Regions from separate parts of the Homo sapiens genome. Here region 2 is linked to region 1. Evidence: fine-mapped expression QTL. A gene starts in region 1. The other region holds a variant in brackets. All regions are shown on one strand. Distances are from middle to middle.

The links.
Region 2: its variant is fine-mapped to the expression of MTARC1 in fibroblasts (GENCORD, PIP 0.95).

What each region holds. Positions count from the first base shown.
Region 1 is chr1:220,779,958-220,795,627 of GRCh38, reverse strand. MTARC1 (mitochondrial amidoxime reducing component 1) reads right to left here and starts at 8,715. Exons shown (of 7, transcript NM_022746.4): 1 at 8,409-8,715; 2 at 3,964-4,137. The coding sequence starts at 8,683. MTARC2 (mitochondrial amidoxime reducing component 2) reads right to left here. Exons shown (of 8, transcript NM_017898.5): 5 at 15,549-15,610; 6 at 15,389-15,460; 7 at 13,696-13,850; 8 at 10,813-11,709. The coding sequence ends at 13,727.
Region 2 is chr1:220,743,911-220,759,580 of GRCh38, reverse strand. MTARC2 (mitochondrial amidoxime reducing component 2) reads right to left here and starts at 11,259. Exons shown (of 8, transcript NM_017898.5): 1 at 10,778-11,259; 2 at 4,461-4,634. The coding sequence starts at 11,049. It overlaps LOC124904516 (a long non-coding RNA gene), which reads left to right and starts at 10,766. Exons shown (of 2, transcript XR_007066884.1): 1 at 10,766-11,762; 2 at 12,818-15,261. The variant G/A (reference allele first, on the strand shown) is at 7,902.

The DNA.
Region 1 (15,670 bases):
AAATTTATATATAAACCCATATATATAAATTATATAGGTAGCCATACAAAGCCGTATACTTGGCAAATTATATAGGTAACTACATAAAGTTTCTTTTTTAAATAAATGTGTTTAAGATTAGTTTATAAGCTGAATCAATTTAAAGAGAAATATTAAGTAAACAAGAGTACAGGTGGTTTATGGTTTGGCCTACTATCATCGTGGTGTTATGCAAATGCTGGAAGTTTGAGAAAGCTTAGTGGATCAAGTAAATCTACTTGGGTGAGCATTCCATTTCCACAAATGACTAGCTCCATGGCCTTGGTGATAGTTTCTTATTCTGAGACTCAGTTTCTTCATCAATAAAATGGGGGTAGAAGCAGAACTTTGTTGTGAGGATTAGGAACAATCCGTAAGAAGTCCCCAAACAATTCTTAGGACTGGGATATGCTCAGTAGGTAGTAATGACCCAGGGTCCCCCAACCAAGTTATTTCAAGCTATCTTTGTATAGTTACTCCATAAATCAAACATTTAATCCAACAAAAGCATCCATTCTCTAATAATAATGTATAAATGGATTTTTATATTGTAAAATATATTGAGTATAGTATCCTATATAATTGTATATAATTTTATTTTATTGCTTTATATCTAAAATGAGAAGTCATTACTAACAGTGTCTGGGTTACATTAAGCAGTAGATTGGTGTATTCAAAGTTTTCATAAATTTTTAAAAACTTTTTATTGAAGCGTAACACTCATGCAGAAAAGTACACTGCTGTAGTATATGACTTGATACCTTTTCACACACTGTCACCCCACCCATTCTAAATTAACTCCTGAGAATCAGAGGGCTGAAATATGCACCCAAGGCCTATGAAGTAATGAGACCATTTACAAAGACCAGGAGTGTCTGCCTTACTCTTTTCTGGATCAAGATGAAAAATAAATAAAATGAATAAAATAAACATACCCAAATTTATACACCCAAATGGATATTACCTTTCAGAGCAGTCACCTTGGGAAGTAATCATTCTAACCTAGTATTAATCATATCTACTTATTTCTACTTTTAAGCCTAACCTCATTTTTTAACCAAAAAAAAAAAAGATCCTATCGTTTTCTTATTCACAGGCTTTAGCTCCAAATAATTTTTTACTTTTCCCAAAAAATCAAATCCACCAGTTCTAGAACTGAATATATGTGGGGGGCTTAGCATCTGTGTGTGTGTGTGTGCAGTTTAATGTCTGAAATGCTAATTTCAGAAGCATCTTGTGAAATGCCAGCATTACCAAATATCTAGGTATGGAGACAGCCTTGAAGGTCATCTCCTTGTTAGATGTCTCTTTGCTGGTGCCTATGAGAAAAAAAAAAAAAATCACCCTCCTTTCTCCAGTCAAACCCTTACAGCCCACCAAGGCACCCTCTCAGTCTCAACTTGCCATTTGGCAGCCCAGGGCTTCCCTTAGTTGCTTTTATAGGAGGGTGGGAGGGCACACACAGTGGAGGATATAGACAGGAAGGCTGCTTTGACTCCTTGGGGCTTCAATTGGCAATAATTATTTTTACAAAGTCAAAGCATTTGCATCTATCTTGGGCCATTTAAACATCTGCCCTGCTAATCTGACACTGATTTCCATTGCAACATCTATTTCTAGATCCTGGGGTTCAGGTTCATAATCACCCAGAACTTGAGGCCTTTCAACGAGTAGAATTTGTTCTGCCTTCTTCCTGCTCCTGCCACATTTCTCCTGAGTTCTGATTGGCCTCTGCTGTATCTTGGCCCCAGCACCCCACCTGCACACTGTCCCAAAAAGTGCAAGTGAAGAATTAAAATAAAATTCCAAATGCTCCTATAACCTTTGACCCTTTGACAAAGATAATGTAGGCATGGCTTGAGATGGTTTGAGGTTTGAGGCTGTTTGTCTGAATAATCCATAGCCAAAGTCCCTAATTCTGTGTATCTTATTAATAGCAGGCAAGGCATGTGAGAAAATCAAGTAACATCTTCGACCATGAAAACAGGTGTACTGCCTGTGATCACGACCCCAGCGCCCCAAGAACTCATCCGAAATCTTTAGGAAACTGTGGGCTGAGGTTACAGCTCCCTCATAAGAGAATAGGTTGGGCTGTCAAAAGAAACCTGAATCCAGAAGATTCTTGGAATCTTTGCTCGAAGAGTCTGTATACTACCGTAGCATGTCTAAGCCTTTTCATTTTGCAATTTGCAAGCATGCCCTTGTTTAGTCTTTTGGGCATGGACCAAATGCCCATATGGGACTGTGAAAAAAGTTTCAACACAATTTCAAATGAATTAAAAATTAAACAAAAAAATTAACTGTAAGAAAATATGGGTAAATATCTAACCATGGCAAATAAACACAAATCAAGACATGGACAAACATGAAATACAGATTGCAATATAAGTATTTAAAAGCTTACCTCATTCAGGGAAAAATACAAATTAAATTAACAAGAAATTATCATTTTTGCCCATAAAAATGGCAAAATGTTTTTTAACATAATGGTTAAAATGGAATTGGTAAAACCATTCTGCAAACAATTTAGCAAGGTGTATCAAAAGCCTACAGGATCCATATTCTTATTTCAAGCAAAACCACTGCTAGAATTTTTTCCCTAAGAAAACAACAAATGATATAAACAAAGATTTATGCCAAGATATTCATCACATTCTTCTTAATACCTGGAAAAAAATTAAGACAATCAAAATGTTTAATCATGGGGCATATTAAAATGCATTAGAGGACACCCACAAAATGAAATATTATGCCAACATGAAAAATGGTATCCTTAAAGATTTTTTAACAATATGAAAAAATACTCAACATATCAATTTAAGTATATAAACAATATTAAAGGATTTTTTGTATTATTTCAGTTTAGTTTTTAAGTAGTAGGCATAGAGACCGAAAGAAAATATGCTGCAATATTAATTAGTTATCACAGATAGTTTTTGTTTCTTTTTTTTTTTTTTCTTGGTATTTCCCAAATTTTCAACAATGAATATGTACCACTTTTCTAATCTGAAAAGCCACCAAATTCAAAAAAGTATATTATCAAGTTTAAAACTCTAAAATGTAGAAATTACATCAGTATTGCATTTTGTGAACTTTTCTGGGTCTTTAGACGTTGTTCAGATAACTACATTTTTTGAGGTGATGCTATTTTTTTATGATAGGCTATAAACTACATTCACACTGCATCTTTATTCCAAATGCAGAAACTATAACAAGAATATAACTGGACCAACTCTAATTTTCCCATAATCAGATAAGAAATCAACTCTAGACATGACTTCTTGGAGGCAAAACTAGTTTTCCTAGAAGAATTGCTTCATTGCAGCCCTTCTGATGTTGAGGGAAGGGCTTGTGTACAGAACATCCTCCTGGGTTACATCCCCAGCCTCATTCTGACACTGACCCCTGGGCAGCCGCTGGCTGGATCACTCTTCTAGCTAGAGTTGTTCTTTTCTATTTTGGAACTTCCTTTCATTAGAACTAAATCTTACGGGTCACATAGCCATTTGCAACTCCTTTCCTAACTCAGACTTGGAAGGTGCCCAGTTTTTCTAAGCCAAGAAGAAAAAGTTCTATGAGAATACGTAGATCGAGTTTCACCTCTGCTAGGACACTCGCCCCCACCACTCCCACCCCATTTTTGTGCTTGATCTTTGGGTGCTGTTATTTTTCTCTTGCTGACATGTCAATATGCTTTTGTTCTCATGGGTTTCTACATAGCACTTTCATGTCTGTCATCTCCACAACACAAGTTTCTGAAGCTGCTTCCTTCTTTCTCCTTCTTTTAGATCTTCATAATGTTGAGGACTTCATTCTGTATATGGTACACATGCAATCAACGGTTCATTATTGATATGTTTCTCAGCATTCCCTCTAGAGTTTATGCTTTCTCAAAATTGCATGACTATTCATTCACACAAGGGCTACGACCTGCCCTTTCCTTACCTGCACTTGTGCACTGCATTTGTGGTGGGCGTTTTGATAGGCAGTAGTAGGTCCTTTGTGTAGGCTGCACTGAGAGTCAGGGTGTCACCATCGCAGGTCAGGGAAATCAGGACCAGGCGAGGTTCCTGGCGAGCAGTAACCATGTTTCCCTCCTGGTTGATCACAAGCCAAAACCTGCCGTTTTCAAAACACAGGATATGTGTGAACCATTATGGCAGGAAGCCAGACCCTGGAGGAGCTTCAATTAGACACTGTTGTCATCTTTGATTTCTTCCCCATAAGCCTGGTGTGTGTGAGTTTGAGTGTGTGTGTCTGTCTGTCCTAAACATCAGCACACAGGACTGAGTCTGTCACTTAATTTCAAAGGATTTCATAACCACTCAAGCATCCAACATATATCTGGAGAACAGTTTGAGCTCTTTGATGGCACAGAAATCAAAGATGTTAATTATATTTTCATCTCAATCTCTAGAAAGCCTGATCACTTTCATTAAACATGCCCCAAGCAGATGACAAGAATCTATTTTACATGAAGACCTCAAAGGCAGGAGGAAGCACAGGGCCTGGCATCTGGTAGGCAACGGGCTCTTGTCAGTGGAAATAGCAGGACTGTTGCTTATATTGTTCACAGGGCATGGAGTTCAGCTGAGCAACACACAGTGCCACTTATACTCTGCCAGTTCCAGCCCCCCACCTTTTAAAAATTTTATGTTCCAACATTCAGTGCTGTCCATTCTGCAATTTGCTAAACTAGACAGTATTTTTTTCTTCTGGCCCAGTATTCCTGGTCTACAGGTACTTCCTAGAAAAAAAGATAAATGGAGAAATAAAGGTAATAGAAAGAGCCATTTCCAGAACAAGAACAACATGTTTTTGCAGGTTATCTCTCAGCTACCAAGGAAGCAAAACATATTGGCATTTCAATCCTTACAGTACACACTGATCAAATGATTACAATTATAGAAGTGAGCATGTGCTTTTGAGATTTCCAGACATAAGAAAAAAATATGGCCGGTACTTTAGGTCGTTCAAGATATTTCTTGCATCACTTCCAGCAGGTTATCATGGTTGAGTTGTTCAGCTACACTAGAAAAATATGCTTAGTATAAGCCCTTTCCGTAACTGCCCTTTTACCAGACTTTGTTTCTGCACAGACAGAGGCCTGCCCTGACCCAAATCCTTGGGACTAGCAGGTGAATATTCTGTCTAATATTCTTCCTGGTAATGGCAGTTTACATCGCTCTAAAATGCAAATCTAACTTTATGACCCCCTCATTCAAAATCCCTCCATGGTTCCTGCTTTCAGGATAAAACCAACTCCTAAACAAGGGCGTGCCCAGCCCTTCATGATCCAGCTGTTGCTCCAGCCATTCTTACCTCCCGAGGTCTTCACACAGGCCAGTCTTTTATATATTTATTTTTTAATTGCAGTAAAATATATATAAAACATAAAATACCTAGCACACTCCTACGTATAGACCCCAAAGAACTGAAAACAGGAACTCAAACAGACATTTGTGTATCAATGTTTATTGCAGCTTTAATCAAAATGCTGAAAAAGTAGTAACAGCCCGAGTGTCCATCAACAGAGAATGGAATTTTTTAAATGTGATTTTAACCATTTTGAAGTGTGCAATTCAGTGGCAGTAAAGTACATTCACAGTGTTGTGCAACCATCACCACTATTTGCAAAACCTTTTCATCACCCCAAACAGAAACTCTGTACCAATTAAGCAATAACTCCTCGTTTTCCCCTTCCCCCAGCCCCCAGTAACATCTAATCCACTTTGTCTCTATAAATTTATCCACTAGACATTTCATATAATTGGAATTATGCAATATTTGTCCTTTTGTGTCTAGCTTATTTCAATTAGTATTATGTTTTCCAGGGCCATCCATGTTGTAGCACATATCAGAACTTCATTCCTTTTCATGGCTGAATAATATTCCATTGTGTGTATATACCACATTTTGCTTATCTACTCATCCATCAATGGACACTTAGTTGTTTCCACCTTTTGGCTACTGTGAATAACATCATAATGAACATTCAACACTCAATGCTGCAAAGAACATTCATCCTATTTATGTCCCAGTTCCTTTTGGTAAATACCTTAGAGTAAGCTTGTCCAACCCGTGGCCCAGGACAGCTTTGAATGAGGCCCAACACAAATTCATAAACTTTCTTAAAACATTATGAGATTTTTTTTGTTTTTGTTTTTGTTTTTGCTCATCAGCTGTTGTTAGTGTTAGTGTATTTTATGTGTGGCCCAAGACAATTCTTCTTCCAATGTGGCCCAGGGAAGCCAAAAGATTGGACCCCTCTGGCATTGACTATGCCAGCCTTTCCCCTAGCATACCCCATCCTCACAAGCCGAGTGTCTTTGCCCAGCTTATTCCCTCTCTAGAAAGTTCTTCTCCCAATTTACTTGCCCAGCAAGTTCTGAATCGTTTTCCAGTTTTCAGCTCAAGCTGTTACTTTCTCTCTGATGTTGTCCCTGACGGCCCCAGCCAGCTTCCAGCACTGCATCCTCTATGCTGGCACCCTGGCACGTGTCGCATCCTCTATGCTGGCACCCTGGCACGTGTCACAACCTCTGTTTAGTCTAGTCACAACCTAGGACTGTAAGCCAGTGTTGGCTTCTTTTGATCACACTTTCTGGGAGTGTGTGATGAACGAAAATAAAGAATTTATCATAGTGTCTGGTACAAAGGCCAGCTCTTCTTGTCATCTATTGTAATATGAGCTCAAAAACTGCTTTTTGAATCTAAGTAGTAAAATTCCAGTGCCCTTTGCCTCTGGGGCCTACAAAAACTCTACCACTTTTCAGAGCCTACTATACGAAACATGGATTTTTTTTTTTTTTGAGACTTAGTCTCACTCTGTCGCTCAGACTGGAGTGCAGTGGCGAGATCTCTGCCACAGTGGAGCTCTGCAAGCTCCGCCTCCCGGGTTCACGCCATTCTCCTGCCTCAGTCTCCCGAGTAGCTGGGACTACAGGCGCCCACCACCAAGCCCGGCTAATTTTTTGTATTTTTTAGTAGAGAAGGGGTTTCACCCTGTTAGCCAGGATGGTCTCAATCTCCTGACCTTGTGATCCACCCGCCTCGGCCTCCCAAAGTGCTGGGATTACAGAAGTGAGCCACCGCGCCTGGCCCAAAACATGGAATATTTAGGATTCTTGGCTTCCTTCCTGAAGCAAAGATGCATACGTCACTCACCTTTCAACTATGTCATGAATTGCCCTCTGTCTGGGGAGCTGGTAGGAGAAAGGTTACAGCTCCCATTAGTCCTGTGTTACTTGCTGAACTGCGAGGGCTGCTCTGGAAAGGAGTTTCAAGTGCAGCCTCACAATAAGACCCGAGGCTGGCCTGAAGCCAGACCCTAAAGAGGACAAAGCTGCCGGCTCCCGGGTTTTGCAGCCTTCGCTGAACCCCAGGAATCCACGCAGCTCTCAGAACCCAGACAGGACATTAACAAAGTCACTCTTTACAAAGCCCCAGTGTGCTAAAGAAAATAAGAGTCCTGGTTCTGCTGCTGTGTGGCTCTGAATTCAACTTCTTTATCCACAAGAGTGCTTGAGAGCATTGGAGAGAATTGGGGAAAATAGCATCTGCAATGCCCCCACAACTCTTTCTTTCTTTCTTTCTTTTTTTGATTCGGAGTCTCGCTCTGTTGCCCAGGCTGGAGTGCAGTGGCGCAATCCTGGCTCACTGCAACTTCCACCTCCCGGGTTCAAGCTATTCTCCTGCCTCAGCCTCCTGAGTAGCTGGGATTACAGGTGCGCGCCACTACGCCCGGCTAATTTTTGTTTTTTTGTTTGTTTGTTTGTTTTTAGTAGAGACGCGGTTTCACCATGTTGGTCAGGCTGGTCTCGAACTCCTGACCTCAGGTAATGCACCCGCCTCGGCCTCCCAAAGTGCTGGGATTACAAGCGTGAGCCACCGCGCCCGAAGGTATTCGTTGAACTGCTGTCATTACTATTATGAGCTCCGCCTTGGTGCGCTCTTGGAGGGCTGGACTCTACAGTTCAGCTTTCTCCAAGATCTCAAGAAAGTCACTCAAAATAGCGACTGGGAACCAACCTCTTCAAGCTAGCCGCCTCCACTAAATGGAGATTAAGAAGTTTGCTCACTGGCAGACACCTGGGAGCGATACCACACCTCAGCAGGAGCACATGACGCCAAAGAGCCAGTGGGAGGTGGAGATCCGCCCACCCCGGGAAAACGGGTCCACGCGCTCAGAGTCCCAGAGCCCTGGGGTCTGATGCTGGGGGGTGAGGGTTCCTTTTTCTCTTTGGCCTTGTCTCACCCAACTCCCAGTTTCTTTGTAATAGGAGGAAGGACCTGTTAGCAGACTCTGCAGACCTCCCCTGCGCTCCTCCCTTCTCACCCCCTTGCCCCGAGCCGGATCAGCGCTGCCCCGCGCCGGCGCTTGGCCGTACCTGTCCCGCAGGTTGCCGCTGCGCAGCCCCATGGCCGTGCACTCCGCCTCGCTCACCGGCACCCCCTTGCAGGATTTCACAGGGTAGATCCAGAGCTGCGCCACTGTGCCCACCTGCTGCAGCAGCCGCCGGCGCCGCGTGGGCCATGCGCGGCGCCAGGCGACAGCCCCCAGCGCCACCGCGGTCAGGCCCAGCGCGGCAACCCCGAGCCACCCGGGCCGGGATTGCGCGAGGAGGACAAAGCGCGCCAGCGCGGAGGAGCCGGCGGCGCCCATGGCTGGCTTCTCCGCGAGGTGGCGGCGGCAAGGCCGGAGCGCGCTGGTCGCCCGGGGCCGCTGGGGGAAGGTGCGGCCTTTGGCCCCGAGCCCAAAGGCTGGGCAGCTCCTGAACCCTTCCGGGCCAATCAGAGCAGTGCGTCCTTCTGGGGGGCGGCGCGGGGAGTGGGAGGTGGTGGCTCAGCTTCCACTTGGTCGGCGCCCCACTGCCTCTGCAACCTTCCGTCGCCTGCGCTGCAGGGCGCTGTGCCCTCCCCCACCCCACGATCGCTGCAAGTGACCAATTTATTTACTTACGTATTTATGGGGTTATTTGACCTAAAATAAACAATATACAACATTTGCAGGACAAAGCGTGATTTTGAAATTAGAAATCAGACAGCTGGCAGCAGCCTCTCCTGGGAATAGTGGAGAGCTGGTAGGCCCTGCCTGGCCTGTGCAGTGTCCAGCTCTCTGCTGCCGCCGCCCTCCCCTCAGTCTGCCCAGGGGCTAGGAGCTTCCAGAGAGTGGGGGTCTGATGAAGGAGGATGCTACCAGGCCCTCCGCGCCGGCGAGCCAAGGCCAGAGTTCTCCCGGCGGCCCCTGGGAGCGGCAATGGGCGTCTGAGAGTGCCTTCTACACGGCTCGGGGACGCTCGACTCCTACCGGCGGGGAGCCTCGAGCTGGAGCTGCATTGGCAAGGGCCTTGGCTCAGTTTAACGCTGCACAAGGTCCCCGGGCTGCTTCCGGCGGGAGGGAAAGTCACTTGGTCCTGCAGGCACTCACCTCAGTCACTTGTCACTTCCAAATCAGGTTATATTCCAGACAACAATGTTAGCATACCCCGAACAGCGTGGTTTAGGAGTCAGGCTCCTGCTTGATGTACCAAGCTATTAAAGGAAAAAAATTCCCTCAGACGCTTGTTAAAAAGGTAAGGAAGACTATTCAAGGCTACTGTAACAGGGGCATCACAATAGGGGAAAGAGATTAGGCTCAACTCTGTATTACAGCAAAGACAGCTCAGGATTCATAGCCAAGGAGCGAAGTTCCTCGGGGTCAGTGAATGGAAAATCACTAAGCGGAGACATCAAGTGTAGAGGATTCTTGATAAACCCACTTAACAGGATTCTACTGAACAAGGCAAGGACTTACACACTGAGGGTGACATATGAGGAATCTGAGCAGACATCAAGGGTGATCAGATATTAAGGATGGGAGAATACTCTGGAAACTGACTAAGCAGGATTCTTGCTAAACTGGGCTCTGCAGGGAGTAGGGTGGCAAGGTCAAGGCCTCATGAAGAAAAGGGCACAGGAGAGTCCGAAGTTTGGTCAAGGAGAGTCTGTGTTATCCCCAGCTCAGCCATGGTCCCCTGAGCCAGGAGTGTACATTGCAAGACTCAGCCAGAATTGCCCATGCAGGGCAAGGGTGCATGGATGAGAAGCGGGAGTTCGCCAAGAGAAAAGAACAACACTCTTCCTCCAGCTGGCAACTCACTGCAGAGCAGTTCAGTGCTCAGGGAGGCTCTGTCTTTATTGGCCTGAACACTTATCTGTCCTGTTTTTCTGCTCTATTCTCTTCTCTTCCAACCCCAGGTCACACCTTGTCTGTAAAGGACACAGCTCAGCAGGAGGCACGACTTGATCCTCCTCGGAAAGGCAGTTCCGGGGCACCAAATGTGCGTTTCTGTTTATCTCCCTCCTGAATTCCTCTTTGAAAATTTAAGAGGAAAAAATGGCTTCCCTATTTTAATGGCTGACTTTGAAGTTCTGATTTTTCAATTTCATCACTTCCAGAATTTACCCAGGCCTACAGCTCACTTACCACTTTTACCTCACAGGGTGCGGGGAATGGTGGTGAATTTCAGTCCCAGAACCCAGCAAAGGAAAATGGAGGAGGAGGGAACAGCCACTCCTCACTGACCACTAGGAAGGCCCCTTGCGGACACTGGCCATCCTGCCACAGACAGGCCACCTGTGTGCCTGCAGCTCACAACGCCCTCGCCCCCTGCCAATGACAGAAGCCAGTGTTTGTGGAGTCAGATTGTATCTCTGGAGGCAATCAGAAAGGGTAAGGAAAAATAAATTGCAGTGACTCAAATTCTAATATAAAGAGAAAAACCCAGGAAGAAGACTCATAAATACCAAAGATAAAGCAGGATTGAGATTCACATTTATTATTTACAAAGAAACCATAAAATTGTAAGTAGGTGAATTCATCCACATACTATTTCAGTGAGTATTTTTGCTTAAGATCATACCAAAGTTGTTCGTTTCTTTGTTACGAAAAAATTATTTGCACTGAAAAAAATATGTTCATGCTGTCTTCCTTGCATTCCTACTCTCAAAATTCCATTCTCTTTTAAATGTCATCCTCTTCCTTATCTTACTTGGAATTCCAGGTGGTATATCTGGCAGTTACACACAAACAGATTACTTTTATGTGGCTTAGTAAAGGTGTAATAGAGTACTAAAACTAAGTCTATAAGAGAATTTCCATACTCAAGTACAGCCCAGATTCCATAATGCTAGAGTAAAAAGCACATGAGTGGAAAGTCAACAGGACTCAATGGCCACATAAAGACCAATATTAGGCATTTGTGAGTGTGGTAACATGCGTCCTGCACATCAGGACACAGTGATCTGTTGCTTCCCATTTCTCCCAAAACATAGACTGATAGGTAATAAAAGGCACACATTTTAAAAACATTTTTGCAGCTTTTTAGTTGATTCATTAAACTTGCTTTATTCATCAATATTAAAGTCAGGAAGTAAAAGTGTAATAGCCATGATAACATTCAAAATAGCATTTTTGATGATCTTAATTATTTTTAAAGCCTTCAGTACCTAAAATTTATATATATACTTTCATATTCCCCCCTCTAATACTTTCCTTGCATTAACCTGGAGCATACACAACTTTGAAAAGTCAAAAATCGAGATTGTTTTCCAGGGTAAAGATAGTTGAAGGCTGGATAATAAGGATTTGCTGATGTATCGTTGCTGCTGTTGTTAAGATCTCAGTCAATCCCTCCTGGTTGCTGAAGCCTGAATAAATAATAAGAATCTCTGGTTATTTGGTTGTTTATCCTACTGTTCATAAATAATTCAAACTCCCACAAAACAGTCACTTATTGAGGTTACACATATAAATGTATGGTGCAGTGCTGTGCAGAAAGCATGGCCCATTAGCTCTAACTCACATCAGCTCCCAGGCCCTACGTCAGCTGACCTATCTAAGCCTTTGTTTCTCATCCATAAAGTGCCTGTTATCATATCTATCTCACAGAGATCCTCTCACAGATAAAGATTACACAAGGCCTTCTGGGCAGCAGAGACAATTGGAAATTGAGGCTGAGTGAACCACAGATGTTTGTTGCCTCCATCCACTGCAAAACAGGATCTGATTGGATGAGTTTGTGACGGAGTGATATGGAAAACCCTCAATCGTTATGGTATCTCACAGCCATTGGGCTCCCTCAGATGCAGAGAACACATGAAAGCCCTTGGCTCACACAATGATCCAGGTCCAGTCAATCATGACTGGAACAGCAGGACACAGGATCAGTTTCACTCAAGCTAGATGGCTCAGGCTTGGGTCCACTCTCCCCAAATGGGGCTTTTAGAAATGCCAGGTACTTAGGAGCTTCACAGTTTCCCCTCTAGTATTAATACTTATTGTATTTCATCAAATCCAAGATATACCAATTGTAAGATGCACCATTATTATATGCATCACTGATAATTTTATGCATCACTGATATTTTTCAAAAGGCATCCTGAATGTTATAAGAAGCTGACTGATATCAGAGATGTTAGAATAGGATCTCAGAACGGATGAAATATGTTATGAAATATGGTTATGGTTATGCAAATACCTAGTCATAACAGTCATCAATAGAAGTGTAGCTCCTTTTTGCCCACCTCAAAGGCAAAGCCTGTGTCATCTTTATACCCACTATGGAACCTAAGACTGGATCATGATGGAATGATGGCAATAAAAAACATAACTGATATTTACTGAGCACTTTATTTGTGTTGCAGCGCAACTTTATATGAATTAATACTCAAGATAACTTTTATTGCTTGTTTTGGTAAGTACTATTATTCCCACTTTGCAGATAAGGGTACTGAGACTTAAAGAGAAGTTAAACATCTCAACCAAGTTAGGAAGATGCTTGGATTACAAACCCAAGTCTATCTAATGCTAGATCTACACCTTCTAAGCCACTGTGTTACACTGTCCTTAAGGAGGGTCAGGTTGTGGGTGTCAAGACTACAAAGGCAAGTAACACACGTGAGAAGCTCAGGCCAGAATCAGAGAGAAGGATGGTCAAGAGTTTTGGAGATGAGGTAACTTAAAGAACTGGGTCATGGATTTTATGAGAAAACTTGCTTAAAATCTCCAATTTGAGGTCCTCTGTCCAACTTTCTCATTCCTTTAATTTGGGAGTTAGGCTTTTGCCTCCAGGAGTGAGGGCTGTATTGGACACAATGAAATCAATGTGAGAACATTATTTTCTAACTCATGATTCAGGACCCAGTCACCATGATGCACTGATTTTTTTTCAAACTTCAATTATACTTTAAAAATACATTTGATAAAAGACATTCAATTTAAACATTTCCCAAGCTGATGTTGAATAATTTAAACATTTTCCCTTCTATCTGAGACAGAAAAAATAAATACATAACTCTGAGAATGTACATAACTCTGAGAATCAATCACCTTCATTTCCCTATTCCTTAATGATATTCTGTAATGAGCTGTGAACATATACCTGTCTTTCTGCTGAGCCTCTTCCATCAGCATTTTACCATTAAATGGGAAATAGGGGTGGAGAAGGCTGAGGTAGGAGTACACAAATTACTGCAGGGAACAGAAATTAAGGGCATTTTCCAACTCCAAAGATCAGAATATAAAACTGTTCATTCTCTCAAGAATTAAAGCAGCATAACATAAAAAAAATTAACACAAGAAAATGCAGCAATGGCTTCAAGACAGCGTATTCAGAAGCAAAGCTGACCCTTTACCATATCACCCTAGTGGATCCATCACTCATCACTACACCATCCGATACACAGGGTCACCAACTCTCAGGCTTCCAATTTTTTCCACTGAATAATAGATCCCAAAAAGTGGAGACAACTTGTACAATTCCCTCTCAGAAGGATCACACAGGCGGTAGCTGAAACAAGCAAAAATTCAATCATCAGACACAAAAAGGAAATAATAATCGAAGTATTCTCAATAGAACTCAAGTTTGCCTTCCAAGTTATTTATAAATACACAGCAAGAATTTTCTAAAATGTTGCGAGAGAAGTCTGTGGACAATTAGTCAAACTGCAAATAATTCTAGTTTTTCTAGAAGTATCCTGAAAGTCTACGCAATTTCTCCATGGCTTCAGTTTAAGTCCAAAAAGAAAAAAACTTATGTGTAAGTATAAAATAAATACTTTGTCTATATGGGTACCTTCAACTTCACAACTCATTGAAACAAATGCCCCTAAAACTCAAAATGGAATGGCCCTGAACTCTACAAATCTTCTGTTTAGTGCATTTAAGCACCATGCTTTCAACCCCCTCCAGGTTTATGAGCCCAAAGCTGGGGTTCACTGGTGAACAAAAATTCAGACAGACATGAAGTTGGCAGATGGGTCTGGACTACTGCAGATGTTAATCTTTTTCCAGTGTCCTGTCTAAAGAAAACAATAACTTTCACAGCATCTTAAATAATTATCACTACATCTTAAAAATCAAAAACAAAATAGAATTGTAAATCTGAAGTCATCATGAAATAACCTCTTTTCTAAGCTAAACCCATTGGAAACAATCCACAAAACAGAGGAAAGAGAAACAAAATAGAATACAGCTCCAAAGAATGTTAAGCCTAAATCACTATCTTCGTTGGGAACTAAAGTCAGCCAAACTTCTTTAAATAACAAAACAAAAGAGAAATCCTTAGCATAAAAGAAGCTCCTTGGTAAAAAAGCTCTGACAACTCATTACATTCATTTTTTTCTAATATTTCATTATGCAGTTTCAATTATTCTCATATTCCTTGATATTGATTCTAATAAAGGAATTTGAGTTGCAATAAACATGATTAAATAAAGTGTTTAAGGCCTACATTTGGAAAGACATATATAAATAGTATTAAAAATTGATATGAGAGATACTAAAATTTCAAAATGTAGTATTATAGAATTAAAAGTTTATCAAAGCTGGGTATGGTGGCTCATGCCTGTAATCCCAGCATGTTGGGAGGCAGGCGAATCACTGAGGCAAGGAGTTTGAGACCAGCCTGGCCAACATGGTGAAACCCTGTCTCTGCTAAAAATAACAATAATCACCCAGGCATGGTGGCACACACCTGTAGTCCCAGCTACTCAGGAGGCTGAGGCAGGATCACTTGAACCCAGAAAGTGGAGGTTGCAGTGAGCTAAGATCACGCCACTGCACTCCAGCCTGGGGGACAGAGTGAGGCTCCTCTCAAAAAAAAAAAAAAAAAAGTTTATCCAAAGCACTAGAGGATCCATCCAGAAAAAGAGAGGAAGCAACAGTGCTCTCATTAACCAATAGACGCGAATCAGTCAGAAGGTAGACTGGAAGGTTCTCCGGAGAGAAAGGTCATATCTTCCCTAAAGCAGACATAGCACCTAAACCCATAGGTAGTTCTGGGGTGGAGATAATATTTAAAATACACTGGCTGTGGTGGTATTCTACCTCTTCAGGGTGTCCAGTGGCTGTTTCCTGTCTATGACTCCAGTGTCTGGGTCCACCGTTGTCAAAATACACCTGTTATGCAGTAACCAAGGGTTAGGTGATGCTTAGGAACCAATGAATGGGCCACACCACAGTCCTGGGGTCTAGCTAGGCTCCTTACCTGGGGCATGCCATTACCTTTTTCACTTCTACACTACCAATTAGGAGTTCATCCCAGGTATCCTAAGAGAAAAGAGAAAGTTATCTTTTAAATGGTGGCTTCATTAGCCTTTGAGTCTGTTT
Region 2 (15,670 bases), 36 kb after region 1:
CCGGGAAAGCTTATGGGTGGCACTTTGAAAAGCAGAAAAGCCCCCAACAGGGCAATGGAATACTGATTAACCGGAGCCCCTTCCCCCCGATGGAAGGCATCCCTCCACCAGCCCTGTCTCCCATCCCTGCACTGGATGGTATCGCTCCCTCTGCCATGCCATCTTCTCCAATTCTTGCAGAATTTTCTGCAAAGTCCACTCTCTTCTACATTTTGACACAAAATGTCTCATCAGCAACATTCCATAGAAAAAACTGACCCTCACTCTGGGTTCAATAAAACTTCATTAGTAAGCAATCTCTTAACTCACTAATCAAAAGTAACTCACTAAAAATTATGTAAGAGGACATAAAAACTTGAATAGACTCTTACAAAGAAAATCCAGATACTTTTACTGGCAAGTTCTATCAATAATTAAAGAATAAATAATACCAATCTTACACAGCAAACAAAAAAAGTGTTTTTAAGACTTGCTATGTAAAAGTGGAAGAAAAGAGTAAATGTTTAGGACTAAATCTAACAAAACATGTAAAATCACATTACAGATAAAATTATAAAACTTTATTAAAGAGATAAGACACAAACAAGTGAAGAAAAATAATATTCATAGATAAGGTGGATTAATACAATAAAGATAATAGCTATTTAAGACCTAATATCCAGTTAAGTGCTTACTGTATACCAGGTCCTCTTGCAAGTGCTTTATTTAATACACACACACACACACCCAGACACACACACACACACACATATTTTCACATCAATTTTCTGTAAATTGAACCACAAATTCAATATAGGGTTGAAGTCATGTCTTACTTCCCCCTACTTTAAAACATTAGCTTCACCTTTTAAGACAATAATCAGGCCGTGCACGGTGGCTGATGCCTGTAATCCCAGCACTTTGGGAGGCCAAGGCAGGTGGATACTTTGAGGTCAGGAGTTCGAGAACAACCTGGCCAACATGGTGAAACCCCACCTCTACTAAAATACAAAAATTAGCCGGGTGTGGTGGTGCATGCCTGTAGTCCCAGCTACTCAGGAGGCTGAGGCAGGAGAATCACTTGAGCCTGGGAGATGGAGGTTGCAGTGAGCTGAGATCGTGCCATCGCACTCTAGCCCGGGCAACAAGAGCGAAACTCCATCTCAAAAAAAAAAAAAGGTAATAATTATTCATAAATACTTGTGATAATCAAGAAGCCATACTGGTCTATAATTAGTATAAAAAAACTTAACACCACACAAGGTGAACAGGGAAAGCTGATTCAAAACACTAACAGTGAAAGTTTAAAAAAAATAAGTGGCCGGGCGTGGTGGCTCATGCCTGTAATCCCTGCACTTTGGGAAGCCGAGGCGGGTGGATCACAAGGTCAGGAGATCGAGACCATGGTAGCCAACATGGTGAAATCCCGTCTCTGCTAAAAATACAAAAATTAGCTGGGCGTGGTGGCGTGCGCCTGTAGTCCCAGCTACTCAGGAGGCTGAGGCAGGAGAATCACTTGAACCCAGGAGGCAGAGGTTACAGCGAGTTGAGATCGCGCCACTGCACTCCAGCCCGGGTGACAGAGCGAGACTCCATCTCAAAAATAATAATAATAATAAAATAAAATAAGTGTAGAATAATATAAAATTCATAACACTTCAGCCTTGTCCAAATGTCTGTGAAGGGACTTTTCTTTTTACTAACTTGAGGTTGTTGGTTTATGTTATTTGATTCTGGGCTCTGGTGGGCTGGCTGTGGTAATCACTCTGTCGCTTACCATCTGTTAGGGGCTAAATGTTTGTGTCTCCCCAGAATTCCTTTGTTGACACCCTCACCCCCAATGTGGGGCCTATGGGAGGTAATTAGGGTTAGATGAGGTGGAGCCCTCATGCTGGGATTGGCACCCTTATAAGAGGAAGAAACACAAGATTGCTTTCTCTCTTCATGCAGGCACCAGGGAAGGTCATGTGAGGACATAACGAGAAGTGGCCATCTACAGCCCTGAAAAGGGACCTCACCAATCTACCAGCACCTCGATCTTAGACTTCCCATCCTCCCAAACTATGAGAAATAAATGTCAGTTGTTTAAGCCACCCAGACTATGGTATTTTGTCACAGCAGCTGGCACTAGCTAAACACACTATCTATGTTATTTCTTCAGTTTTTAGCAGTTCCCTTGGCAACGAATCCATTAAAAATAGCTTATAAATACAGGCTGAACTAGTTACAGCATGTCTAACCAGCTAGAGAGGGCAGTGCGCTGACTACACCTCTGCATCAATCCAAATGCACAGCTCTCAATCATTTTCACCAAACTGCCAGGGTTCCAGGCTCTCTATTCCCACCTCATCCAGATCTACAATTCATGCATGGAACAGAATTACATAAGAAGAGGCTTCAGGCTGAGCACGGTGGCTCATGCCTGCAATCCCAGAAGTCTGGGAGGCCAAGGCAGGTGGATCACCTGAGGTCAGGAGTTCGAAACCAGCCTGGCCAACATGGTGAAACCCCATTTCTACTAAAAATACAAAATTAGCTGGGCGTCATGGCACATGCCTCTAATCCCAGCTACTCAGGAGGCTGGGGCAGGAGAATCGCTTGAACCTGGGAGGTGGAGGTTGCAGTGAGCCAAGATCGTGCCATTGCACTCCAGGCTGGGCAACAAGAGCAAAACTCCGTCTCAAAAAATAAATAAATAAAAAAGAATAGGCTGCAATTGCTGTCTTTTTCAGACCCAGGCAACTCACCTGCAAGGTCTTCCTCTTTCCCTCTTTCCATCCAGGAAGGTGAGTGTCCCCCTAGATTTCTGCCTATTTAGCTGGTAAAGAGCCTTGGGGGAAAAACTTGCTCACTGTTGGCAACACAGTGAGTCTACAGGGCAACACCTATATTACTCATGTGACACATGTCAGCTACGTATTTACCCATCACCTTCACATGTCTTCCAATTAAGCCGAGATGGCTACACACTTCCTCTTCAATGAACTGATGGGCTCAAAACCTGTCATTTATGGAAAAGCTTTTCTTCTCCCTACACAAACACGTTAAAGGCAAAAGCCTTAGGAGGGAAGTGGGTTCAAATCCCAGCTCTGTGTTTTCGTGGCAGTGATCTAAGACGTGGTTTCCTCGTTTGTAAAGTGGAATTAATGACCCCCTCATGGGCTTGCTAAGATAATTACCTGAAATACTGAATTCAGTGAATTATTGCTTCAGACTTTTGAAAATTGGGAACCATGAGTTGTGGATTTCAGCTTAGACGCTTTGCTTGAAAAAGCGTAAGATGAGAGTTCACGGAGTAATCTGAGGCTCCCCTCTGAGCCCTGGGACAACACCAACTTCCACACACTTAACAAGCTCAGTTGGTGACAAGGGATCCAGTTCATCCCATGACAAGCATCTAAGTCTTCTTAATGTGGAAGGACAAGACCCCAGCAAACCACGGAACTTGACAACCCAACAGAAGTCCCATAGGCCAAAAGGAAGCCAAGGCCTGAGGTGTGTCTTTGGCCAGAAGTGGAAATCCCTTACACCCAAGGAATATGTCTTCATCTCAACCACACACTTCAGAGGCCGCAGAGTCAACTTGAAAAGCTCTGGAAGCTCCAGCATCCTTCTCACCCAGCCCTGAGATACAGCTGCTAAAGTCTCCACTAACTCCCTTGTCTGCCTGGTTGGAGAGTTGACAATTCTGAATGAAGATTTGAATGAAAGGAGAAAAGCCCTAAAGATGAGCACATTGTACCACCTTTATACTTGTAGTAATCCTGCTTTTAATTTTCTGCATGTTTTACGCTTTGACATCTTGGAGCCTTGTTGACACTGAAGAAACTGCTTCTTCCAGGGCTGACCAATTCCTAGAAATAATAGACTGATGACCTGCAAGTGTGCCTGTAATAGGAACACCAACCCATCCAGAGTCTGCACTCCCAGTCACCTCCTTTATTTGGTGCTTACATGCCGGGCCACTAGTCCCATGCCCTAGTCAACCCTAGAGCCAAGTACCAGACAACCTGTGACCCAGAGCCTGCTGAAATTGTTCAAACTAGCCAGCCCTAAGCCTGCCGCCCCTGCCTTGCTTCTCCTTTCCTGTGGAAACCACAATAAAAGCCCTTGCCCACATGTTCCCCCTGCTCCCTCTGCCTCCTGACCCACCCTGGTACTCCCCCACTTGGCCTTGCGTGGCGTAGCGTGCCTCCAGTTTCTAGAGAATCTGTTGGTATAACATCTTCTTTTTTCAGGACAGTCATTTCTATGTCTGCGTGTCTAACCATACCTGATTAAAACAAATCCTAGGTACCCTGAAAACAATACCCTGCATCATCCACTCATGCCCAATCCCAACTCAAACTGCACTTCTCTTAAATGTTTCCTTTACCAATGTCATCCTCTACTGTAGAAACTATAGCAAGACAGAATGCAAGGAGGAGCCTGAAGAGAAACCAAGCCTGTTGCAGTTCTGTGGATGCCCCCAAGCGGAACACCTGCAGTTGTGGAGTTTGTTTGAGGAAGGCTGCTTGCTAGGCAAAACCAGCTGGTCCATGTCTGGAGCCCTGAAGATCAGGCAGTTATTCTCATAAATGATGGAGATGAGCACGAGGCGAGGCTCCTGTCGGGCAGTGACCATGTGTCCATCTTCCTTAATCACCAGCCAAAACCTGCAGAGAAACAAACCAGGGCACACTCAGAAAATCCTCTTCCACCTCCCAACAGCTTCCCTCCAGCTTTCTACTTCCTCAGAACTCTCCACCCACCCCGTCTTGGGACCTAACAATCATTTTCCAGACAATTATCCAGGTCTGGCCAAATGATTTGGGTCTAAAAGTTGGTGACCCCAGAAAGAGCTTATTTGGCGGAAACAGTTCTGGGAGAGTGTCTGGCTGATGTATGGCAATCTCCAGTTTCAAAAACAAGAACATGAGCCTGGCTCAGAGACTCTCCCTCACTGCTTAGTCAACCCTGCTGCTTGTCTGGGGGTTCTGCTTTGGTTAGAAGCTTCTGCAGGTCTGTTAAATATGTCTCTGTGGCCCTGGGAGAAGTAAAATAGCTTTCAGGTCCTTTTGTTGTAGAACAAGATGAGGTTGGCCAAGTGAGTTTGAGTCTGAGACAAAGGTCTTGCAATGTTGCTGCCTCCAAGCGGAACCAGGCCAGCCTCTGCTCTGTTTAACTTGCCGCGGCATGCGGGGGTCCTACATCAGGAAACCTCCCAAACAGCCTTTCCTCTTCATGCACACATTCTGACATAGAGAACAAAGACACACAGAAGTCACATGTTAGATAAGAATCCCACTTATTTCCTAGAGAGCCCACTGTACTGGACTTGGTTTTCTTACTTTGTATTTCTATGGGATGAGCTGAAGAGTGAGGGGAAGCTGGCCAGGCCCAGTTGGTTAGGCTTTTACCTACAGCCTAGCATATAGGTTGGGGCTGTACCACACAAAAGACTGTGTTGCCAAAAAGAAAAAAATCTTCCACTCCTAGGGAAAATAAATTTCAATATCACAGTTTAGTTTCATTTTGTTTTGTTTCGTTTAGTTGTTTTGTTTCATTTCGTTTGAGACAGAGTCTCACTCTGTCAGCCAGGCTGGAGTGCAGTGGTACAGTCTAGCTCACTGCAACCTCCACCTCCTTGGTTCAAGTGATTCTCTTGCCTTAGCCTCCCGGGTAGCTGGGATTACAGGTGTGTACCACCACGCCCAGCTAATTTTTGTACTTTTAGTAGAGATGGGGTTTCGCTATGTTGGCTGGGCTGGTCTTGAACTCATGGCCTCAAGTGACCTGCCGCCTCAGCCTCCCAAAGTACTGGGATTATAGGCATGAGCCACTGTGCCTAGCCCAATATCACTATTTTAGAAAGAAGATAGAATCTGCAGACTAGCGGGTGAGGAAAATGCAGGCACTGATAAGTAAAAATTGTCTGAAAGCCAGAGGCTTTCCAAATGTGAGGAGGATAAAAAGCACAGCCCCTTCCAGAAGCAGGGGCGGCTCCTCCCAGGGAGACATTCCAAAATATGACCAGAGCCATCAGGGAAAGGCTGAGGAGACCTCAGGAGGACATCCAATATCCCAGCACAGGGAGCTCCGTCTCTGCCCTGTCCTGACCCTGACAGATAGTCTTACATCTGCAACCTCCTTATCCGTAAAGTCCTTTCCAGGTGCTGGCTAAACTGTCCCTTCCCCGCAACCACACCAGAAGACAATGGCTGGCAGCCTGTGCTCTGCTAACTGGCATTATGATGGTGTGGCAGTGTAAAGGCATTCCAGTAACTGTCTTGACTACCTGCTTCCAAAAAGCTGGTGACACTGGGTAGCAGCAAGTCCCCACCCCACTGAGGAGACCACCTTTTTCTTTCTTTCTTTTTTTTTTCTTTTTTTCTGAGACGGAGTCTCACTCTGTCACCCAGGCTGGAGTGCAGTGGCACGATCTCGGCTAACTGCAAGCTCCACCTCCTGGGTTCACACCATTCTCCTGCCTCAGCCTCCCATGTAGCTGGGACTACAGGCACCCGCCACCATGCCCGGCTAATTTTTTGTATTTTTTTTTTTTTTTTTTTAGTAGAGACAGGGTTTCACCGTGTTAGCCAGGATGGTCTCGATCTCCTGATCTCATGATCTGCCCACCTCGGCCTCCCAAAGTGTTGGGATTACAGGCGTGAGCCACCGTGCCCAGCCCACCATTTCCTAAGTGTATATATGCATATGTGTATTATTTATTCATTTATATATATTTATACTTAATTAATATCAAGAGAGAGGGAGACAGGGTCTCACTCTATCACCCAGGCTCTGGAGTACAGCGGCGTGATCTTAGCTCATGGCAGCCTTGAACTGCTGGGCTCAAGCGATCCTCCTGCCTCAGTCTCCTGAGTAGCTGGGACTACAGGCACACACCACCACGCCCAACTGATCTTTTTATTTTTTGTAGAGATGGGGTCCCACTGTGGTCTGGACCTCCTGGCTGGTCTGGAACTCCTGGCTCAATTAATCCTCCCTCCTTGGCCTCCCAAAGTGCTGAGATTACAGATGTGAGCCATCCTGCCTGGTCAAAGATGTCTTTAGATCCCACAGTTCTCTGGCTCACTCATCCTGGGGCTGGGTTCTGTAAATCTGAGGATGTCTGCCCAGAGAATGGGGCTACAGTGAAATAGGCAGGCATCCACTGACTTAGATGCCTCACAGGGCTGGGCCCTATTCCCTATTTCCAGCCTTGTCCCTTGGTGCACATTTCTTTGGTTAGCCTCACTAAAGCCTTCACCCTTAACTTCCAACATGCCCCTTCCCCAGACAAGACTCCCTTTGAGATCTGCACACAACCAGAGCCATGTCCAAACAGGAGTGGCAAACCTGTTTGCACATTATTTCTGACATTATTTCTCCATGGGCTGAATCTTCTCATCTCCCATTCATCCCTTATTAATGTCGCCCTTCACCGTGGCTCACAGCCTGGCCTGTGGCTCCAGACTGTTGTATAATAATACAGGTGTTAACTGCTGAGGTTAACAGTGGGAAGTTGTCACTAGAGGTTTCCCACTCATCACTGTCACTGAAAAACTGGCAACTTACAGGGAGTCCAATTTTGGAACAGGACAAATACAGCAATCACAGGTTAAAAGGTTACCATTTGTAACATACCCCAACCATCTCATTTCCCTGTCAACCTGGGCAATATTATTTTTCACCTCTTGTGCACAAAATGATGCCCAGTGAATGAATAACTAGTTCTATTCTGCCAGATCTGAAAGAAGAGATAAGTCTGGAGCATAGATTTCATCATAACCAAGTTACCCCAACCTAGTCTGCAACACTAAAAGCCAGCACCTTGAATTCACAGGTAAAACATGAGTATGTGGTAGAGGGATCAGTGTAGAAGCCTGGAGCCCCGATTCCCCAAAAGAGCTATAGAGCCCCGAACAACCAACAGCAAC[G/A]GGTAAGTGGAGCCCAAAACAACAGAAAAAAATATCATTTCTCAATTACAAACTGGCCTGGGGAGCAGGAAGGACTGAAAAGTGAGGGAAAGCAGGAACTCTACTACTGAGTGTGGGAGGAGAAAAACAGCAGGAATTGGGCAGGGAATAACACCCTGGACAATAATAAACTTAAGGGATTCCTTTCTCCAACAGTTCATCATTTGTGCAGAAGAAATAAAGGACTGGCTTCAGTAAGGGTTTAGAGAGATAAAACTGATCAACTCACATATGGCTGCTAAGGAGAGCAGAGATTTCCAAGGTCAGGGAGGACAAGCACGCCCTCCCAGCAACTGCACCAGGCACCGAATGCCAGCATTCTGCCAGGTGGACTTTAAACACTCAATGCTTAGGGTGCTCAAGCCAAGTGTTCACAAGTATACTAAGAGCTTTGAACAAAATACCTTTAGAAATTTGAGACCCAGAGCACTTCCAGAGGAAAATCCCAGCTCCTTGGAACAGTTAGTTCCAAAGACACAGGTTCAGAATGGAATTCATTAAATGAGGCCTTTCCCTGAACTCTAGGAACATTTGTAGTAGTGTTATTAAATTGTCAGGTGGAGAAGACAGCGGCTATCAAACAGAGTTCTCTCCAGCAAGCCTGCTTTCAAATTGTTAATTATGCTTTGATAAATAAAATGTAGTTAAAATGGGGCTTTAGAGACCATGAAGTTCAACCTCATTCTTTTGCAAATGAGACAACTTTGTAGAAGTTCGCCCAAAGTCTCCTGATCCTCAGTGCAATCCTTATAGTTTTATATCATGCACTGGTTTCATACAAACAGCATAAGTTCTGTACTCACACAGATCTGAGTTCACATCCCCACAGCACACACTGGTTTTCTGGCCTTGGATGGGATACTCCTTCATTCTGATACTGTTTCCTTATTTGCAAAATGGTGATAATACTATCTAGCCCACAAGATTGTTATGAGGTTTAAATATGCTAATCTATGCGACAGGATTTAGCTCAGTGTCTGCTGCATTTTAACACTGAATAACATTAATTTCATTGCCTTTCCCTCTACCCCAGGCTTCACATCACCCCACCCCATCCTAAGCGTTTATTGTTTAAAACAAGGGAAAGGTAATACAGTTGTATTTATTTTAGGATGCCAGTGGGAGCAAAAAGCACAGGCAAAGGACACGTATTTTCTTTCCATGGTTGCAGTAGTCATGGCAAAGCAGTGACAAAGAGAAGTGGGAAAGAAACCGTTCTTCAGGTGATCAGAGGAAACGCAGATTAGAACTGGAAACTGTCTGTGAAACCAACCCTTCAAGCGAGGAAGGAAGTAGTGCAACCTAGCCTGCAACACTAATTTTCTCTGGACATGCATCGTGAGAATTTGGTTCTCCCAGTTTTTTGGAAGGTGTCCAGTCCCACACAGCCTGAAGTCTTTCCAGTAATAGGAAGGCTTTTCTTATCCTTCATATTTGAATAAGCTCTAAACATCCTCTTCTTCTTCATGGTCTCGGATAAAATCCTTTAATTATAGCATCAAAATCACCAGGGGGAGATTTAAACATTCTACACGAGTTGGCCCCACTCTTGGTGATTCTGCTTCCGTAGTCCTGGGATGGGAATCTCAGGAAGTTATAGTTGAAAAAGCTCTCCAGGATAAGAAATCTGGGGTAAGGGTGGGAGAATGAAAATCCTCCCATGATTCATATGGTCTGTGTACACAACACTTCTCTAAGACTCTCTGAAGTTTTCCAACACCATGGAAGTCCACATTTCTTTAAGAGGGCAGCAGTCTTCAGAAAACAGTGCATCCGCGTGTCCTGGAGTGAACACAGGGATGCAGGTGGCTCTCTGCTAGAGGAATCCTTGAATGATCAACTTGCAAACCTCCCTCCCCTCGGACACAGGCCCACAGCTAAACCATCTCGGCCAGATAAGAAGACATCTTGGCTGGGCACAGTGGCTCACACCTGTAATCCCAGCACTTTAGGAGGCCGAGGCTGGTGGATTCCCTGAGGTCAGGAGTTTGAGACCAGCCTGGTCAACAGAGTGAAACCCCGTTTCTACTAAAAATACAAAAATTAGCCGGGCGTGGTGGCGCACACCTGTAATCTCAGCTACTTGGGAGGCTGAGGCAGGAGAATTGCTTGAACTTGGGAGATGGAGGTTGCAGTGAGCTGAGATAGTGCCACTGCACTCCAGCCTGAGCTACGAAGTGAGATTCTGTCTCAAAAAAAAAAAAAAAAAAAAAGAAGAAGGCATCTTAATCCTAAGTATGAAATGTCTATGTGTCAGGCCCAAAAGTCCCAAAGTTCCAGGCTGTGAACAACTCTGCCTATGGGAGAAGGGGGGACACTATTCCCTTAATGGCAAGTATCACCTCTGCCCCAGAGTCCCCATGCCACTTGCTCATCCTTCATCAAAGTGTATCAGGCCTCCAGGGCACCCCCAGGATTGGAGAAATGTGAGGAACAAGGCCCAGCAAGGCCTAAGCCAATGTCCTTGAACAACACTTGGTTTCTTTCTTGCTGCTTTCTAGTGCCAATAGCTTTATTTTTCTACTTTGGTATACTAGGATAGAATCACAAACTTTAGAGCTAAGGAGACTTGGAGATACAGGTCAGACCCCCTCCTGTTACAGAGGAGGAATCTCTCGTCTAGGGAAGGGCAAGGGATTGCCCCTACCTACTTTACCAAAAATAAACCTGGCATGAACTTGGCCTTCCCAGATAAACGACCAACGGCCCAACAGTCAGCCCAGAAACTCAGGTGGCAAACCTCTATAGTCCTTCCCAGATAGATCGGGCCCCACCTGCCCCCCCGCTCCTCATCCCAGGCAGGCTCCGCGCTGCCCCGCGCCCGCGCTGTGCTGTACCTGTCCCGCAGGTTGCCGCTGCGCAGCCCCATGGCCGTGCACTCAGCCTCGCTCACCGGCACCCCTTTGCAGGATTTCACCGGGTAGATCCAGAGCTTCGCCACGGTGCCCACCTGCTGCAGCCGCCGGCGCCGCCTGGGCCATGCGCGGCGCCAGGCGACAGTCCCCAGGGCCACGGCGGCCAGTCCTAGCGCGGCGACCCCGAGCCACCTGGGCCAGGGCCGGGCTGGGAGGCCGAGGCGGGCCAGCGCGGAGGAGCTGGAAGCGCCCATGGCAGAGCGAGGGCGGGCGCGGACCGGCGCACAGACCCGGCAGCGACCGGAGACCGGGAGGACGAGGAGGCCCTTAAGGATCCGGGCAGGCGAGAGGAGTCAAAGTTGACCCAACTACGGACCCTCTCACACTTTCACCGCCGAGACGGCAGAGCAGTTCCGCGGAGAGCGGGAATGCCTTAATGCGGTGACCAAGCCTGCGCGGTAATGGAGGAAGACAGGCAGACAGCGGCGGGGGTACCCTGGGCGCCGTGGGAGCGACGCCGCCCAAAGCAAGCGAGCTAATGGGGCGGCCTCTGGGGTGGTCAGTGTCTCCTCCCTCTTCCCCGCCCCTACAACACGACAGTTACCCATGCAACATGACCTTCAGCGCCAGCACTCTGCCACCCCCTTCTCTGCTAATACTGCACGCTTAGTCGCTCGACAAGATCACCGCAGAACGTGAAGGCGGGTTGCCCAACGGAGGATTTACAAACATTTGGGAACGACTTTTTCTGGCAGGTCGCTGTGAGAACTGCAGGACTTTCTGCACACAAAGACACAGTCTAAACCTCTGCACTCAAAGACGAGGAACTCTAGCGTGGCTTATAGGAGCATGACTCAAGGTCCCCCACCCTCCGCTGCCGCCTAACCTCGACCCCAGTAAAATGTCTTCCCGAGAAAGCTCAAGGCAGCCAGGAGAATTCCCCGTTTATTCTAGCCAACACCCGATGGTAAAGCCCCTGACCTCCCTTTTTTAGGATATTTTCTTAAAAGGGCTTACAACTGTGAATCCTTTCTCTGTTGCTTTGAGATGTATATGTATCGCCTACACCTCAGAAGTGTCTTTCTCAAGGACCTGAAAGCCATTGCTCTGAAATGCAGTCATGGGGAGGATAGGCCTCTGTCCCCCAGTCTCTGTGGGAGGATAGAATCCCAGCTTCATAACGGCCAGCTCCAGGCACAGCTGCCCGTCATTAATACTGACCGCCCCTTCATGATTTTTCACTTGATCCCCTGCTAGCTTCCCGGCCCTATTCTCTCCTTCACCCTTTAAAACGCCCATTCTGCTATGCACAAATGAGAATGATCAGCTTTTTCTCCTACTGTAAGTAGTTACTGAGTAAAATCTGTTTTCATGGTTTAACTAATGTCTGGCTTTGTTGATCTTTAACACCTCCATTCAAGCAAGCTATTGGGTTAACAGTGGATTTTCTCAGACAAATTAAGGTTTGAAGTCTTTCAAGTTTTTTGTTGTTGTTCTGTTTTTCAAAAGTTTGTCCCTTAAACTGTGGCACAGTTCTAGGAAAGTTTAAGGAGGCCAACCAGTGGGCCACCCCCCAAATCTGGGCTGGCCACCTCCAGAGAAAGGGGCCCGTTCTGGAGTGTGGGAAGAGACTCCGGGAAGGATGGAGAACCAGAGGAGCCAGGTTCCCTTTGGCTGTTCCTTGTGAAAAGTGAAAGACAAAACAGGGCCTGAATCTCTCCCCACCCAGGAAAAAACCTCAGGCCAGCAGAATTAGTCCCTCAATCCCCATACATTTACATCATGCTTGGCAGCTGCGACTTATGGATTTGTTTTTTAAGCATGGTGTGGTGAATGTGATGTGTGTACACTTGTAGCTGACCCCCTTTGCCTCTCCCAACTCCTGAGGAGGGTCAGAGTCCTCCCTGCCCACAAGCCTGCTGTCAGAGTGAGGGGCTTACAAAGCCATCGCCTCGCTATACGTGAGCTCCCAGACAGGGCAAATGTCTTATTGATTAATCATCTCTTTCTTTCACCACATAGATATTGATCATTCACCAGGCTTCGTCCTAGATTGGCACTGGGGATTTAAAGTTTAGAAGAAGCTGCCCTTCCATCCAGTTCACTGACTCCCCAGAAGACTGACACCTCCCCTGCAAGTCTAGAGGATAATGTCAGAGGAGAAGCAAGGTCAAGATGCAGAGGATGCAGAGGCAAAAGAGCAGCTGAATCTCAGGACAGTGCTGTTTTCAGAGGGCGGAGCTTTGGAGCTGAGACTTGAACATGAGGAGGGGCTTGGAGATGGGTAAAGGAGAGGATTCTGGGCAAAAGGAGCAGCACGTGCAATAGCCTGAAAAAATGGAAGGAACAAGAGAGTGTGGCATGTTTGGGCAACCACCAGCAATCCAGCTGTATTAGGATGTACCTGTGCATGCAGCAGGTGGCGGGAGTTGAGGCAGGACAGGTGGGCAGAGGTCAGATCAACAGGCATCTTATCTCTACTTAATGTGGAGACACCTCAGAATTCTGAACAACAGTCTGGCATGATTAGACTTGGGTGCTAGGAAGGCCATTCTGGCTGCTCTGAGAAAGAGTAACACCAAAGATGGTTAGATGAGTTGCAAATGCCCTAGTTCAGGCTGATGTAATTCCAAATCAAGGAAAAATAACAGTGGGGCTGGAGATAGACATGTGGTTAGGAGAGATGGTCAGGGGACAGAATTAACAAGAGATAGTGATGACAGAACACAGAGCCAGAGGGAGAGGAAGAGCCCACGGGGCCTCCTGGCTCTGTGGCATAAAAGTCTGGGGTGGGATGGGGGTACCATTCTCAGAGATTAAGAATTCAAGAGAAGCTGGGCACAGTGGCTCACACCTGTAATCCCAGCACTTTGGGAGGCCGAGGTGGGCGGATCAGGAGGTCAGGATATCGAGACCATCCTGGCTCACATAGTGAAACCCCGTCTCTACTAAAAATACAAAAAATTAGCCAGGCATGGTGGTGGGCATCTGTAGTCCCAGCTACTTGGGAGGCTGAGGCAGGAGAATGGTGTGAACCCAGGAGGCGGAGCTTTCAGTGAGCCGAGATCGCGCCACTGCACTCCAGCCTGGGCGACAGAGAGAGACTCCGTCTCAAAAAAAAAAAAAAGAGAATTCAAGAGAAGAAGATAGTCTGGGAAAAAAGATGATGAGCCTATTGTGAACAGCGAGTGAGAGGTATCTTTGAGACATCAAAGAAGAAATAGTTACCTAGATAGATGGGTAACTTGACCTTTCCATGCTTCCACCTCCTCATGTGCAAAATGATGGGGATAGACATCAAGTGAGGAACTTTGCCATGGTGAGTGCTGCCAAGTCTTTGCTGTCTTCACCAGCCATTATCTATCATAGCCTGCCCTGTTTAAGCTTCACCAATGCTGGGGTTGGGGGTGCCTTCAGGGGAGCAGGGAAATTCCTTATCAGTAATGTGTACATTTGCAGCCCAGCATCTTCATTTGTAGAATTAGTGAGGGGTGATGAGAGGCTGTATTAGTCCATTCTCACACTGCTATAATGAAATACCTGAAGCTGGGTCATTTATCAAGAAAAAATGTTTAATTGGCTCATAGTTCTGCAGTCTGTACAGGAAGAACGGCGGCTTCTGCTTCTGGGAGACCTCAGGGAGCTTTTACTCATGGTGGAAGACAAAGCAGCAGTGGATGTCTTACATGATAGGAGCAGGACCCAGAGAGAGGGGGGAGGTTCCACATGCTTTTAAACAGCCAGATCTCATGAGAACTCACTCTCAGGATGATAGCACCAAGGGGAATGGTATTAAACCATGAGAAACCAGCCCCATGATCCAATCACCTCCCAGCAGGCCTTAACTCCAACACTGAGGGTTGCAATTGAACATGAGATTTGGTTGGGGACACAGATCCAAACCATATCAAAGGTTGAGGATTCATGAGTCTAATTGGCTGTTTGCATATCTTTTTTCCCTTCTGATTTGAATCAACTTATCTATTTTTTTGTTAATTTATAAGATCCTTTTATAAATTAAGAAAATTACCCTTTTATCATGCCTTCCCAAGTCATAACTTTTTCCCCTAGTTTGTCATATTTTGGCAACTTCTGCTTAGGAAAAATCTTTCTAGTGAATAAGACATCATTGTCTGCCTAGAGGCACTGACATAGATAAAGAAAACTCTGTCAATTAAAATATCAACCAAGAAACCAGAGAAAAAAAGAAGCCTAAAACCCAAATATTACCTTGCTTAGCCAGGTCCTCTTCAGGAAGGTGAGTACCCAGCAGCCAATGGAAGTATTCATCAGGGCCATGTAGCAGTTTGTCTTTCCTGGGGAGATGAGCACATCAGATTATCAGGCAGTGAGGATAGTCAACCTTCAACCCATATAACAAATCTCATGACGCAGGCTAGGCTAAAATATTGTAACAACCTCAACATCTCAATGCTCTAACAAAATAAAAGTTTATTTCTCACTTACATCCCAGTTTGATGCAGGCCAAACATTAATCAAAGGTCCCCTTAGGCCAGGCCCAGTGGCACACACCTGTAATCCTAGTGCTTTGGGCGACTGAGGCAGGAGGATCACTTGAGCCCAAGAGTTCAAGACCAGCCTGGGCAACATAATGAGACCCTGTTTCTACAAAAAATTTAAAACAACAGAAAAAGAGAGAATGAGGCAGGCATGGTGGTGCATGCTTGTAATACTAGCTACTTTGGACACTGAGGCAGAAGAGCCGCTTAAACTCAGGAGTTTGAATGGATATTAAGCATATATATATAGTGGAAGAAGAACCATGGCTAGGAAGTCAAAATGCCCTAGTGACTATGAAAATCCAGCCACATGACCAGGGCTGAAAGCACCAGATTAGAAACTCAAGCTTGATAG